Regions from separate parts of the Homo sapiens genome. Here region 1 is linked to region 2. Evidence: fine-mapped expression QTL. A gene starts in region 2. The other region holds a variant in brackets. All regions are shown on one strand. Distances are between the middles of the regions.

What was found. PIP is the estimated chance that this variant, and not a neighbour inherited with it, causes the effect. A credible set is the group of variants that fine-mapping cannot tell apart.
Region 1: its variant is the best candidate, but not a certain one, in a credible set for the expression of UFL1 in whole blood (INTERVAL, PIP 0.57).

What each region holds. Positions count from the first base shown.
Region 1 is chr6:96,557,914-96,562,317 of GRCh38, forward strand. No RefSeq gene overlaps it. Among named protein-coding and RNA genes, the nearest start is that of FHL5, 3.0 kb to the right of the region's middle. The variant G/GA (reference allele first, on the strand shown) is at 1,895.
Region 2 is chr6:96,519,910-96,524,251 of GRCh38, forward strand. It overlaps UFL1 (UFM1 specific ligase 1), which reads left to right and starts at 1,897. Exons shown (of 19, transcript NM_015323.5): 1 at 1,897-2,041; 2 at 3,237-3,382. The coding sequence starts at 1,965. UFL1-AS1 (UFL1 antisense RNA 1) reads right to left here and starts at 1,805. Exons shown (of 4, transcript XR_007059687.1): 1 at 1-1,805. RefSeq lists enhancers at 1-613, 614-1,485, 1,486-2,357, 1,502-1,691, 2,358-3,229.

The sequences.
Region 1 (4,404 bases), 38 kb after region 2:
AAGAGAATTTGTGCAGGGAAACGCCCCTTTTTAAAACCATCAGATCTCCTGAGACTCATTCACTATCACAGGAACAGCACAGAAAAGACCTGCCCCCACATTTCAATCACCTCCCACCAGGTTCCTCCCATGACACATGGGAAATATGGGAGTTACAATTCAAGATGAGATTTGGGTGGAGGCACAGCCAAACCATTTCACAGAAACAAATGGGATTTTTTCTATCAAGAAGTAACTGATGTGAGTTGGGAGGGAGTAAGAGGATGGAAGATTTACTTTCTTTCACTAAGACCAATGAAGAATTTCCCCCAATACATGGGAGATGTAATAAATGCACACACAAAACTCCCCTGGGATGTACATTTTCCACACAAATCTGGGAGCACTGTTCAAGTGGCTATTTAAATGACCTGCAAATTCACACAAGTTGCTCTATCTTGAGGACCCTACTAAGCGTACAACAGAATAAATAGATCCAGGAGAGGCTTCTTTCAAACCTTCTAAGAATGAAACTGACTTTCAGGCTTTCAGAAAAACAATTTGTATTACACTTACATCATAAAAAAGAAGGAATAACCACTGTAAACATGTATTCAATGTTTATAAGTTCCCAGTGTTGTATTATTTGTTTTATCAAACTTGCCCCTAGTTGCATCTCTATTTCTCTGAAGTGATTAGTAGTAAGACAATCTGGGTGTTTGTTTTAAGGAGCAGGAAAGACAGGATTACATTGATGGTGAAATGGAGGAAAGGGAGAACATGGTGAATTTATGGACTTGGCCTAATTTACTCGATCGTGTATGACAGCTAAATACTAGGAAGGCACATATCAACTTTAAAGGTATGTTTTACTTTCAAAGAAATAACAAGTCAATAATTACAGTTAAATATAGTGTCTTGGTAAAAGTACACAGAGGGTGTTGTGACAAGAAATGAAATTTAGACTGTGTTGCACAATGGGGAGGCTGGAAATAACACCTGAACCAAGAGTCCAGAGAGAAAAAAAGAAGGATTAGCCTTGGTGAAAATGAGAGAAGGGAAGGAGAGCATATTAAGGCAGAGAAAAGGAGGTACAGAAGTACTATGACGCTAATTAGAATGAAATAATGAGATGTGGGGAGCCAAGAAGTCTGAGAAATATAATAACTGATCTGGGGAAGTAGTGTAAGATAAAGTAGAGAGAATAGGGGGGTTTTGAAATGCCTTAAACACTAAGCTACAAAGTTCAACCACTATCTCAAAAACATGGAAGCCTTTAAAAGATTCAACTAACCAGGGAAATTAAGTAATTACATTTGTCTTCTAAAAAAATTACATTCTGGAAAGCAATTTGGCAATTTACCAAAATTCTTTAAAATGTACATATTATTCGTGAAATTAATGTCTTCCTTTTCTGAGAATTAAAATGACTAAAAAATGTATACGAGTCTTTTTTCCCAGCCTCTAGTAGAGAGGAACATGGACACCTTCTCTTGCACAGAAACAGGCCAATCTTGGCTCTGAAATAGTCTATTCAGATACTAGTCTGCCAAAGAAAAACTGCGATCTGACTAGTCAACCTAAGACAAAAGTCTCAAAGGTTGTCTCATGTTTTGTGTTACTCAATGTAAAGAAGTAAAAGTGCTTTGTCAAACTGTTTTACTACTGAGCCTGTCTTTACTCATCTAAAATGCAGTCCTTAACCTAATTCTATCATACAGACTTCAGAGTTGGGTAAGAACTTGAAGACTTGACACATAGAACATATTGTTGTTTAAATACAACCTAATAAATGTAAATGTACTTAAAGTCAATGTTCTAGATTTTTCTCCTTTCCTCTTTTCAGTCTTAATCTCAGTCCTGTGATTTGTATGTTTTAAATGCTGAGTGTATCTTTTGGTGTTGAAAAAAGAGA[G/GA]AAAAAAAAGGAGAGCTATTCCATTATGTATTTTATTACATAGCAACTATTTGTTATAGCCACTTTAAAAATATTTTATTGGCTTGTCCATCAGTGAATGACTGGATAAAGAAAATGTGGCACATCTACACCATGGAATACTATGCAGCCATAAAAAAGGATGAGTTTGTGTCCTTTGCAGGGACATGGATGAAGCTGGAAACCATCATTCTCAGCAAAGTAACACAAGAAGAGAAAACCAAACACCACATGTTCTTACTGATAAATGGGAGTTGAACAATGAGAACACATGGACACAGGGAGGGGAACACCACGCACCGGGGCCTGTTGTAGGGTGAGGGGCTGGGGGAGGGATAGTATTAGGAGAAATATCTAATGTAAATGATGAGTTGATGGGTGCAGCAAACCAACATGGCACATGTATACATATGTAACAAACCTGTATGTTGTGCACATGTACCCCAGAACTTAAAGTATAATAATAAAATAAAAAATATTTTATTGGCTTGGAAAATTACAGTATATTAAGTGAAAACAAGGATACAGATTTATAATGGGGTTCAGGATGCACTACGCTAAAATATGGCACCTTGGTGTTTGAGAAAACTCCAGAAGCAGGAAGATCATTCCCACCTTCCCTTTACCCTTCTCTCCCGAGGCAGGTCATAAGACCCTCATTCAAGAGACCTCCCTATGCCTGGAAGAAAGGAACACAAAGAAGAGTCTAAACAAACAGGCCTTGCTAAGTTCCCCCGAGTGTATAATCATTAGACTATATCCCCTTTGTCCAGTCATACTTTTCCATGACTATCCACTCTTCATCAAATCTAAGCATAAAAATACACACGTTTATCTCTTGCTTTGAGTCTTCATTTCTGAAAGGCTCCCATGTCCCATAAAAACTTACATTAAATAATTTGTATACTTTTATTAATTTGCCTTTTTTTATAGGGGCCTCAACCATAAACCTAGTAATGGAAAAGAAAAATATCTCGCACTTTCTACAAGTATATACAATGTGGTCTTGGTTTTCTAACTAAATATACTGCATAACTATGTTATGCAATATATTTACAAAAAATTTTAGCATTTCTCTGTATCATTAATATATGAATGATACAAAGCCTAAAGAGGTACACAAAGATTTGGTCTGGGCTGTCTTGGATTGCAAATCATTTTACATTTTACATTTTCTGTATATGTTTTCCAGTTTCTGTTCCAGATTATCTGCAAGAAGCATGTATTTTATAATTTAACAAACTTATTTAAAAATAATATTTTTCTATAGAGAAGGATAGAAAGGGATCAGGCTGAGGCAGATGCCAGTTATTTTATGGCTGACAGAATAATCTGAGTGAGACATGTGAGACATGGAATGCAGGGGTGAGGACAAATTTGAGAAAGATCATTTAACAAACTAGAACCTACAGAAGGTGGACAATGATGGGGATGGTGGAGGATAAATGAGGAAAGGGAATACTCTAACATAAGGGGTGGATGATTGTGCCATTCCCTGAAGTAGGAAATACAGCAAACTAACAAGTTTGGAATGGGGAGAAGACAATAAGGATATTTGGGACTGTTGAGTTTGAGATGGCTGGGGACCCCTAGACAAGGTTTTCTAATAGATAGCGGGATACAGGTCTGGAACCTTGAAGAGTGGTATCAGATGAAAGTACACATTTGGGAGTCATGTTGTATAAAATTGTTCATTGTTTTGATGAAGAACGTGATGGAAAGTCTGCAGAGAAGCATACTGAACAGAAGATAAAGCTCTAGGGAAGAGTGAGGTGAATAGAGAGAAAGTGAGGGTGCTAAGAGCAAACAGAAAATCAGAAGGGTGTAACATAGCAAAACCAAGGGAAGATAATTTCAGAAAGAAATAGACATGGCCAGAGATGAGAATTTTTCGGTAAGACTGAAGACCATACTCTTTGGGTTGCTAATCAAGGTTGTATATGATCTTAATGAAGCTTTTTTGGAGCGGTTCAAGTGAAAGACAGATTGCAATAAGTTGGGAGGGAGAAGAAGGCTCAGAATGTAGTAGGTTTGGAATGACTTGGTGGATGTAGATTACCCTCTCAGGAAGCATGGGAGCAAATAAAGAGGGTGATGGTCCCAGGCACTTTTACATCTCAAGGACTGCTTTCCTTGCCCATAAAACAAGGAAAATACAGGCAGTACCTGTTTAGCAATGGTGTCCTAAGGATTAAAATCTATTACTAATGAAATATACTTGTGTCCTTTTGCTGAATCCAAATTTATTGTTGTTAGTCGCCATATGTTCATTTTCATAATGTCTTAATCATTAAAGTCAAGTGAATAACAAAACATACAGTTAACTGGCTCTGCATTTCTCTAGCTCAAGTTCTTTGACTGTATATACCCGAGTTTGACCTTAGAAGATATTAACATTTCATTCCTTTAGCAGTTAGAACAAGGACAGTTTAAGTTTGGTCTGGGATTAAGGCAGAATTTCTTCTCTCATCCTGCCTTCCAAACTGAAGAAA
Region 2 (4,342 bases):
ATTGAATTATTATTGACTGTACTTCCGGAAAGGTGTCCCAATCCAGACCCCAAGAGAAGGTTTTTGGATTTCATACAAGAAAGAATTGAAAGCAAATCCATAAAGTGAAGCAAGTTTATAAAGAAAGCAAAGGAAAAAAAAAATGGCTATTCCATAGGCAGAGCAACGGCTTGAGCTGCTGGCCTAAGGATACCTATAGTTATTTCTTGATTACAGCTAAACAAGGGGTGGATTATTCACAAGTTTTCCAAGGAAAGGTGTAGGCAATTCCCAGGGCTGAGAGTTCCTCCCCATTTTAGACCCATATAAGGTAACTTCCAGACGTTGCCATGGCATCTGTACACTGTCATGGCACTGGTGGGGGTGTCTTTTAACATGATAATGAATTATAATTAGCATATAATGAGCAGTGAAGACGACCAGAGGTCACTGTATTCATCATCTTGGTTTCTGGTGGGTTTTGGTTGGCTTCACTACTGCAACCTGTTTTATCGGCAAGGTCTTTATGACTTGTTTTTCCTGCCTGTGGACCTTCTATCTCACTCTGTGACTAACCTCCTGGGAATGCAGCCCAGTAGGTTTCAGCCTTATTTTACCCAGCCCCTATTCAAGATGGAGTTGCTCTAGTTCAAACGCCTCTGACAACTAGTCACCCTGCTGTGCTATCAAATACTTGATATTATTCATTCTTTCTAACTGGAATAATATTTTTTAAATAGTAAAGAGTGAGATACATGAACTCCAAATATCTGAGACAGGTCACAATCAACTCAGAAAGTTTATTTAGCCAAAGTTAAGAACTTGCATCCATGACATGGCACAGATCCTGACAACATGCGCCCAAGGTGGCTGGGGCACAGCTTGGTTTTACACATTTTAGGGAGACATGGGGCAGCAATCAATATATGTAAGATAAACATTGGTCTGATCTGGAAAAGCGGGGCAACTCCAAGTGGGGAGGAAGTTCCAAGTCATAGGTAGATAACAGACAGTTGCATTCTCTTATGAGCCTCTCCAAATGAGGCAATCAGACATGCATTTATCTCAGTGAGCAGAGGGGTGACTTTGAATAGAATGGGAGGCAGGATTCCCTAAGCAGTTCCCAGTATGACTTTTCCCTTTAGCTTAGTGATTTGGGGGTCCCATGATTTATTTTCAATTCATAAGATATAAAAAAGATATAAAAAAGAAAGGTACACCTGAGTAAATATCTACTCAACAGGGAAGCAGGATACATGTTCTCTTTGCTTTCCCTGTTTCCTTGATAGCCATGCACCTTATGTTTATATTCCTCATTATTTGATGAAGTTAATCATTGCAATAAGAGAAATACGAAAGACTCTAGAACTCTAGACACGAAAGCAATTATACAGCCTTTATGACACGCAAATTTATTCACTCTGTAAAAAAAAAGTAATTACTTTCGGTAGGGTCTCCCATGTATCTTCCAAAAGGCAGACTGCTCTGGGTGCATGTAAAAATTAACACGATACCCTATACAAAAGGGAATGCTCAGAGTTAACAGCTAGAGAAGAGAGGCGCCAATCTTAGACACAGGCTTATTCCTCCGCACCCTCCCCCAAAACAAATGGAGGACAGAAGAAAAAAGAAAAGTAGTTAATACAACTATTACTCTACGGAAATATTAGGGGTAGCGCAAACAAAGTTCTGACACTAAACTTTACTGAGCCCTGCATCCTGCCCACGACCCCCCCAGAAACACCTACGCACCACTCTCCTAGCCGCCGCAGCCCCGCCAGTCTCGCCGGGAGGAACCCCCAGCGCCGCGGTACAACCACGGCACTTCCGCCCGCCCCCCGCGCCTCGGGCGCAAGCGTTTGGTGTGTCTGCGTCGGGGGCGGAGCCTCTTGTCCCTCTGCGCGGCCCGTTCCGCCTCTCTTCTCCCACCGCCTGTCGGCTGACGTGTCTGCAGTTCCTCCGCGTCTACTGCGAGTCAGGCCGTGATGGCGGACGCCTGGGAAGAGATTAGGCGGTTGGCGGCCGACTTCCAGCGGGCGCAGTTCGCCGAGGCCACGCAGAGGTGCCCGACCCTCCCTCTCCTTTGTGGAGCCCAAATTAGGCCGTGGGCGGACACGCCTGTATCTGGGACTTTAGACCCGCGGCCCTGCATCCCGGGTCTTCTCGCTGCTTGTCACCATTCTCTCCTCCTCCCTCTGTCCCGAGCCTGGATCGCAGTTCCAAGTCCAAGGCTCGGCGGGAAAGTCCTCAGCCTAGGACGCCCTGGAGCCCCCCAGCCCAGCTGCAGCGAAATGCTGGCGCGCCCCGCCCCACCATGGACGGGGCCGGTGATTTCGAGCTGCCTTTATTGAGCATTTCTTTGACCCTCCCTCACCCACCAACCACCAAATCACTGTGACATCTTGGCTATTATACACTTCCTGATCTAGAATGAGCTCGAAAGGAGAGGCTAACCCCCGCCCCCAGTACAGTACTTGGCAAATAGTATGTTGATCCTTAAAACTTCTTGCCCTTTTATCTCTCGTAACAGACCTAGGGCTAGACCCCTGACCCCATCTGTTATTCAGGGCACTGACATTTTCTACAAGCCCACTAACCTTTGGAGGATGTGTCCAGAGGAGCCTAACTCTGCTTTTTAAAAATAACGCTAATAGAAGCCTTTCTATTCTTTGACTACTTCCTACCTGCGATGTTTTATTCCTTTTGAGCCGGAAGACAGCAATCCCCTTATGCTGTATTTTCTACCACTGATAGCAAACTCGTAACTGCATGGGTAACTAACGTGGGTAAAAGTTATGGTTTCACTAGGCCACATCCCCTGCCTGCTTGCAGACCATGTGTGTAAGTGAGGCAATTATGCACTTAATTTAAAAGAAAATTCTGATTAAACTGGAAATTAGGGCATTTTTTGTTTTGTTTTGTTTTGTTTTTTCTTTTTTCCTACCTAAATAAATGTCTTCAATTTTCCCTTCAGATTTGAAGATTGGAAGCAGGCCTGTAAGAGACAACAGACTTGAAATTTGTGATGGGATGATGTGTACCAATTAAATAAATGATTTAAGCATATGTAAACCTACTTACTCTGAAAGGTTTTTTTTTAACTTATTGAATCAGTTAGTGAAAAATACAGATATTGTGATGTAGAAGTTAGTGACTAAACAAACTTTTTAAAAGCCTGTTTTCATACATTGTATTAATTTTATTGAGCGCCAATGTCTCAAGTGGACTTTTGAAACAACTTTTTTTCTTTCCCTCAGGTTGTCCGAGCGGAACTGCATTGAGATTGTTAATAAATTGATTGCTCAGAAACAGCTAGAAGTAGTTCATACACTCGATGGAAAGGAATATATTACTCCAGCCCAAATTAGTAAAGAAATGAGAGATGAGCTACATGTCCGAGGTGGTAGGTAATTCTTTAGTGTTTTTTTTTTTCTTGGATTTTTGGAAGGGGCAAAACAAACAAACAAAACCCGTAAACATGTAATTGCATACTAAATTATAGATTGTAAGATATCGTTTTCAATTGTTAATTTGATAATCAGGCTTAATATTTTTACTGGGTTCATGCAAACATGGTCATATAATTTAAATGAACTCAAATGTTGTCACTTAAAATATTTTATCATTTTGAGTTATGTGTACTATACATGAATTAATTGTTTCTTTTTACAATTCATTAATTTATTGCATGACTCAGGGAAGGGTATTCAGCTGCCTTTTATTAGGTGGTAATTGTGAAGGGGGACAGTATCTTACAGGATTATAGATTTTTGAAAATCAAGGCTGTATTTCTTTTTAAGGCTTACTTGTACTTACAAATTAGGTAACTCAATCCAGTGTGGTGCTACACCAATCATATTGTATGAAATGCTGTTAAAAACACGCACAAAGTTGGTTTCCTTTGTCTTCTTAAAATTTGAACAGACTACCAAGCATATTTGAATACTATTTGATTAAAATAGAAGCAATTATGAAAGCCTCTCTTCATATTATCAGAGTGTAACATTGGTCTTTGTCTTTTTTTATTTATCTATTTTCCTTCATAGTACCTTTAAAATATGAGCTATAATTTGAATTACTTAACAGATTTTCTTATGCTGATATGTAGAAGCCTACCTTTTAGTATCAAATAATTGAAAAAAAGTTCATCTTAATTTAGTTGTCAATATCTCTTTGATCACAGTAGATAAATTCTGAATTGTGAAGGGAAATGAATACCCTTCATAGATAGAGCCAATTTGTGTGCCAGTTGGTGCTCATAATTGGCCTGATGTTATTTAAAAAAAAAAAAAAAATTGAAAGTAAGTTATTGCTTATGGCTTCAGCCATGAAGACTTAGCCATCAGCTAATGGTGTGTATTTG